Linked DNA regions of Homo sapiens. The protein of the gene in region 1 interacts with the protein of each later gene in a pairwise test. Each region holds a gene or a part of one and is shown in the gene's direction. Other genes may lie near its edges. The genes, in order: STAC and LIMD1.

What was found.
Region 2: the proteins of STAC (region 1) and LIMD1 interact in a two-hybrid assay, tested with the Homo sapiens proteins (one study listed by BioGRID and IntAct).

Annotation. Positions count from the first base shown.
Region 1 is NC_000003.12:36,484,952-36,488,776, forward strand, and holds part of STAC (SH3 and cysteine-rich domain-containing protein), read left to right. Parts: intron 1-25; coding exon 26-107; intron 108-811; exon of another isoform or gene 812-974; intron 975-1,182; coding exon 1,183-1,298; intron 1,299-3,825. UniProt on the Homo sapiens protein: Promotes expression of the ion channel CACNA1H at the cell membrane, and thereby contributes to the regulation of channel activity.
Region 2 is NC_000003.12:45,681,566-45,684,435, forward strand, and holds part of LIMD1 (LIM domain-containing protein 1), read left to right. Parts: 3' UTR 1-2,870. UniProt on the Homo sapiens protein: Adapter or scaffold protein which participates in the assembly of numerous protein complexes and is involved in several cellular processes such as cell fate determination, cytoskeletal organization, repression of gene transcription, cell-cell adhesion, cell differentiation, proliferation and migration.

The DNA of each region.
Region 1 (3,825 bases):
CTTGCCTTCCTCATTCTCTCTCCAGCCAAAGGGGTTTCGGCGTTACTACAGCTCCCCCTTGCTCATTCATGAACAGTTTGGCTGCATTAAAGAAGTTATGCCCATTGGTGAGTTGGGACATTGATGGGTTGAGTTGAGTTTGAAGCAGCAAAGTTAACATTAATGGCTACTGTCCTCCCATGGCTGCAAAACCCGTGGGGTATCTCTGTGTGTTTGTTTGGTGGCTATTTGGGGTATGACTGTGTGTTTTGCTGGAAGGGAAACATAAAGTGGACCAAATTCTCCAGGAATTTTCATCCTCTCCCTGATGAAGCTCAGAAAACACCTAAATCCCAAAGGCTACTGATTAGTAATTCCACCATCAGCAGCATGGTGGAGTGGAAAGAACACGGAGAATGGCTTCCCCCAGACCAGGCTCTAAGCCCAGCTCCCTATTGACAACTGTGTGTCTTTGAACAAGTTACTTGACCTGTCAACCCCCACAAAATGAGAACAGCAATTGCTGCTTTTCATAATTGCTATAAAAAATAAATATAGGTTATTCACCCATGCTTAGTAGGAGCTCAGTGAATATATTATTCTCTAATGCAGATCAAAAGATGCCCTCTATTTATTGATAGCTTTGGCTTGGATTCTTCTCTAACAATATCTTTCAGTTTACTTCTATTATTTTTTTTCTCTCTCTGAAAATCTCGACATCTATTTTTGCTTTTTTTAGGGGGGGCAAGTTTTAAACTAGAAATTTATAAGTTAGAAAGCTTTTAATTAGAAATTAATGAAGCCCAGTAGTGACAAGTTATTTCTAAAACAGTTGCCTCCTACTGCAAACTTTGTGTCTCAAGTCTTTGTACCTTGGTGAGCACAGCCTCCCAGTAGAGGAGATAAAGCTGATCCCTGCAAGAACCTGGAAATCAGAGAGGAATAACGAAAGAGGAAATTCAATCAGGAAGAATTCGGGAGCAGAGTACTAGCTGGTACATGGCAGGACCTGCAAATGGGAGCATGCTGGGTGGGGGTGCATCTGTGAGGAACACTTGGCCATGAAAGCCCTGTCTACCCAGAGGCTAAGTTCCTCTGCACAGAGCCTGCTTCTCAGGCGCTGTTCACCCAGGAGATGTGGTAGGCAGTTGGCTGGGTCCTCTCAGATGAGCTTCCTCAGATGAACTTTCTCTTCTGTTGCAGCCTGTGGCAATAAGGTGGACCCTGTCTACGAGACCCTCCGCTTCGGCACCTCCCTGGCCCAGAGGACAAAGAAGGGCAGCTCCGGCAGTGGCTCTGACTCACCTCACAGAACCTCTGTAATTATCCTCTTCCTTCCTCGGTTTGTCTGTGGTGGTCTTGGGCAGAGCGGGCCTCAGGCACTGCAGTATGGGGTATTCCACCTGACTGCCTCATGAGGGCAGGTCTGCAGGGAGTCAGGCACCTGCCAAAGAGAAACCCAAAGTGCTTTGAGCCACTAAGGATTAACTTCCTGTTGTCAACACCAAGGGATTATTTTACTTTCCTGTCCAAAGACCATCCCCTTGGCCTCATGCTCCTTGACCCTTCCCATGGACCCCCTCTCCTTTACCCTCCCACCAACATTAGATAACATATGAGTCAACATACAGAAATGTTTGGCTCAAACAATGGTCAGGAACTTGGAAATCCTGGCTATTTCCAGTTTTCCGTTTAGCTACATTCCAGTTCAAAGACACAGCTATTTCTCACATCTTTTGTCTTTTCTCTCTAAGAGAGGGCACACCTCTTGATTGCACACAAAAACTGCACTCTCAAAGTTACTTGAACTGTGACTCTGTGGGACACTCACTCTTCCAAGCACCTCTCCTAAGTTCTATCTGACTTAAACTGAGTGTTCCATGCATCTCTGTGACCTGTTATCATCATCTTGTCTCTGGTTGTTTCAATCAGAATTTCTATAAATGCTCCAAGATGCCATACAACTCTGCAGCCCATGCTGAAAGCCACCATTCCTCCAGCAAAGAGGCAAGGACCTTCCAGTTCACATGGCCACTTAGGATAGCCAGCTCCTAGTTTCCATTTCCATTGTTGCAGCCCCTGCTGGACTGGAAGCTTCTAGGCAAGACACAGATGAGCCTTCAAATGGTCTGCCCCACTGAGTCCTCTCAACATCAAGTGACTAGGTGGATTGTGGGAAGAGGGGCAGGGCACATGCCTGGGAGGGGTTCTCAGAGACTGAGTTGAAGCAGCTTCCTCATTGGGTGCAGGTTAAGCCACAAGATTGTAGGTAGGTGAATAGGAATGTAGGTCGGGTAGGCAAGTAGGTGGGTTTATAGGTCCTCTATTGGGTGCAGTTTAAGCCACAAGATTGTAGGTAGGTGAATAGGTCGGGTAGGCAAGTAGGTAGGATTATAGGTCCTCTGCCTGATGCCATGTGGCTATCCTCAAAGCCATCTTTAAACTCACTGAAAGCCCTGTTCTTCATGCATCCACTGATTTCTAAGAGGAAAGAACTAAAAATAATTTTTACTCTTTTTCCTTACTGTACATAAAATTGACATCAGATAGTTCTTTCTTCTACTCAGTTAGCAGACATGAATGAAGGGCCTACAGTTTACTAGCACTGTAGGGGACACAAAAGAAGAGGAAGTCATAGCTTTTACCCTTAGAATTCACAACTTATTTCTGAAGACCAAACCAATAGCGAAGAAATTTGACAATGGTGGCATTGTTTACCATTTTTAAAAAAATACACTTTTATATGTCTTATCCCATTTTATTAAGATTGAGAACGTAACATACACGTGTTAAGGATATTATAATGACTGTGTCATATGAGTACTGAAGCATTTCATAGTAAAGATGAAAAATGTTTCACTTCGGTAGACATTGCCTCAAAGCAGTGAGGGGATAATGTGTGTCATTTTAAGATACCTGATGACCTCCTTAGGGAGGAGATCATTGTTATTTGGCATCCACAAGATAATGCTAATTCTTTTACTGAAAGAAGGATAAAAATGGTGCTAAATGTGATGAAAATATACAAAGCATACATGGGTAGGATTTATATGTAAATAAAGGCTGCTTAGGTTGGGTAACAATAATATACATAAAGTGTTTAGCACAGGGCCTGACATAATTGACACTCAATGAATGGAAATTGTTACTGTTCTATATTTTAATTCATTTAAAAATATTTTTTGAGAGATGGGGTCTTGCTCTATTGCCCAGGCTGGCCTCAAACTCCTGGAGTCAAATGATCCTCCTGTCTGAGTGTACTGAGTAGCTGGGATTACAGGTGCATGCCACTGCACCCAGCTGTTTCATTTTCATTACGCATCTAGCCTTAACAGTGTTTTCTTTGAACCTGAATTATTGTGAAGTTAAACAAGGAAGTAATCCATTAACAAGGCAAATATGTTACCTGAGAAGGGCATTTCCCAGAGCCACTCATGCTTGGGCAGTGTTAGAAACCCCTGACTTACTCGAGGGTAACTTCGCTGTTCTGCTCAGCCCATCTCCTTCTCTGATGTGTCCTCCTGTAACTCCTTAAGTTGGAGTGTTCCCAGGGGTCTGCTTTTGCTTGGTCTTCTTATTCTACTCTCTTTGGTTGATCTCTGTCACATTCCTTTAGTTCAAGCACCGTCTCTACATTGATGACTCCCTTAGGTATTTCCTCTTGCCCAAGCACCAAACCAGTCCTACAGATATTGCAAATCAGCAGATTCAGACTAAACTCATATTCCACGAGTGATTAGGTCCTATAATTCAAAACTGAGAAATAATATCAAAGATACCCTTAGTATTTATCACCAGTACTAGAGGTTTGAACCTCATTATCTCTCACCTAGATTATTATAAAGA
Region 2 (2,870 bases), 9.2 Mb from region 1:
AGGTGAGACCTGCACACGCAGTGGGCTGCATTACAAGAGGAACCCCCATGCTTAGGGGACCCTGGTATTTGATAATGGGCAGTAAGCCTGCCTGACTTTTGCTCCAGAGACAGACACTATCTCTGTCATCCAAGACTGTTCACTAGATAAACATCCTTGAAAATATAAGTCTGGAACCTGGCAATTGGTGTCTATTCTTACCAGATGTATAAAAATGTGAGAGGCCTTGGAGAATCATATCCCAAGAATCAGCAGTTTCTTTTACTGGACCTTTAAGATTGAGACTTGTAAGGTCCTGATGCAGTGACTTGTAAGGTCACTTTGTCTCTCTTGTGAATGTTACTGTTTTTTCTCTTCTGAGGTTATGACCAAAGAATCCTCAAGGCGAGTGATCCTTCAGGTTTGAGACAGCCACATGCAGGAAGACAGGACTTGTAGAGTGTTGGGGCCAAGTGTGTGGTTAGAATCCTTGGGGTGGGGAAAGAGTTTGTTCTAGACTCCAGTGTAGTCCTTGTGGCTACCAGGTCTGACGTGCCAAGGACACGGGAAAGCTGGGAGTGAGGATACTCATAGTCATAGCACCTTACACCAGAATAAAAGTTTTTTTTTTCTTTTTAAGTGATGAGAGAATGGCTAGTCTGATTTTGCCAACATGGGCTGCTATTTGCTTAAGACCTTGATGGTATAAGGAGTGAAGATGCAATCAGGGTAAAAGGCGGTCTGGAGTTGTGGTGTGCTGGCAAACCAGCCCTCTGGGGCAAAAAATTAAAAAGCCTTGATATGGAGTGTTTGCTGATACCTATGATGTAAATATTCCCGCCATGGCCACTTTCCAGCTACCAGCAAGGCATCCTGGCACCAGGGATTGGGAGGAGATGGCATAGTCCTAAGAGTCAGCCTTGGGCATTGGGCCATGTGGGACTGGGCAGTGGGGTATCTGGTCTGGTTCTAAGTGCTGTGATGAAGCAGTAGCAGCTGTAATAGCTGGCATTTCCCGTGTGCTCATCACATAGCAGATGTTATTCCAAGGACTGTATGTTCTTTATCATCCCTCATTTGATAGACAAGACAACTGAGACACAAAAGGGTGAAATAAACAGTAAGTACTCCATCCCAGGCCATCTCATCCAGAGGGTGCTGTCTTGACCACTCTACTACTCTGGTTGATGGGAGGCAGTAAATTGTCCATCAGTATACTTCTTCATCAAAGCTACATAGTCAAAAAGCCACAGGAGGCTGTGAGGAGAAGCTCACTGCTGCTCTGTTGAAGTCTGTATTGGTTTCCTATGGCCACTCTTAACAAATTACCACAACCTCAGTGGCTTAAAACAACACAAATATATCATTCTGTCATCCTGGACACGAGCCAAAGGTTGTCGGCAGAAGCGAATTGCTTCCAGAGGTGCTATAGGGTGCTGCCCATTCCTTGCCCCTTTTCCGCTTCTAGAGGCTGCCCATTTTCCTTGGCTTGTGGCTGCATCATTCTGGCTGCTTCTATTGTCACACCTCCTCTCTGACCCTCCCTGCCTCCTTGTAAGGACACTTGGGATTACGCCCATCCAGATAATCTAGAATAATCTCCCATTTTGTGATTCTTAATAACATCTGCAAAGCCTCTTTTACCTTGCAGAATAAGATATTCACAGGTTCTGGTGAGGAGGACAGGGACATCTCTGAAGGGGAGGGAAGCAGGAGATAGGGTCTGGAGGCATGGAATTGGCTTCCTAAGGCCAATTCAGGCTGACTTCCTAGAACTAAGTCAAAAGGAAAACCCCAACTTTCCACGCTCAAGTAACAAAAGGACCAGAGGCTACTCCCTTTGCAACCTCCCCACCCCCAGCCCCTTTTCTGCATGGCAGGTGAAAAATTGAAAGTATCGCTAATTGATCCCCTCCCACAACCAATCAGACTGGTCTTAGGCCAAGTCTTCATTTGCCTAGGAGTATAACTTTGTAACTTCAGCCTCTGATTGGGCGTTTTACACAACCAGTCAGATGTTTGTATAGGGTGGTGTAACTTTGTAACTTTGCTTCAGCCTCTGATTGGTCCCCTCCCACAACCAATCAAACTGATCATGGACCTCTGCTTCATTTACATAGGGTGTACACCAAGTAACCAATGGGAAACCTCTAGAGGGTATTTAAATCCCAGAAAATTCTGTAACCGGGTTCTTGAGCTGCTTGGGCTGCTCCCACCCTGTGGAGCGTACTTTCGTTTTTCAATAAATCTCTTTTGTTGCTTCATTCTTTACTTGCTTTGTGCGTTTTGTCCATTTCTTTATCAAGACGCCAAGAACCTGGACACCCTCCACCGGTAACAGGAGGAGCATTAGTCAGCCTACCACAGACTCCAACGAACGTTTTTTGAGAGGAAATGAAAGAATATTCCTAAGTTATTGGGTGCCTTTTCTTCAGGAATCCCTGAAAGTGGGGGTTTGCAATTTTCCCTGGATTGAAAACAGAAATGCTTCCTACACAAACATGATTGAGACCTTGTACTCTAGGTGTAAAAAAACAGAGTAGGTCATACTCTGTGGGTTATGGTCAGAGAGATCTGGTTAGAAGTTCCCAGGTAGGCGACAGCCCTAGATGTGTGACACTTCTAGGAGAATCTCTGGCTATGTGGATACGTCCAGGTGTGTAAGGCAGCCTCAGGGACTGCCACCACTTGGTCACATACATGTCCCTCCAACTAATCCTAGCTCTCAAGGACAGGTGGTTCTGGGCCCTGTGTTGCCCATGAGACTTGGTCCACGGCAAGCCTGTGACGGAGTGAAAGTGAGGGGACACCCAATTTGAAAACTCGGCAGGAAGCCAGACTCCATGACATACAAATAGATCAAAGTGAATCGGCTCCGTTGTTTGGGGAAA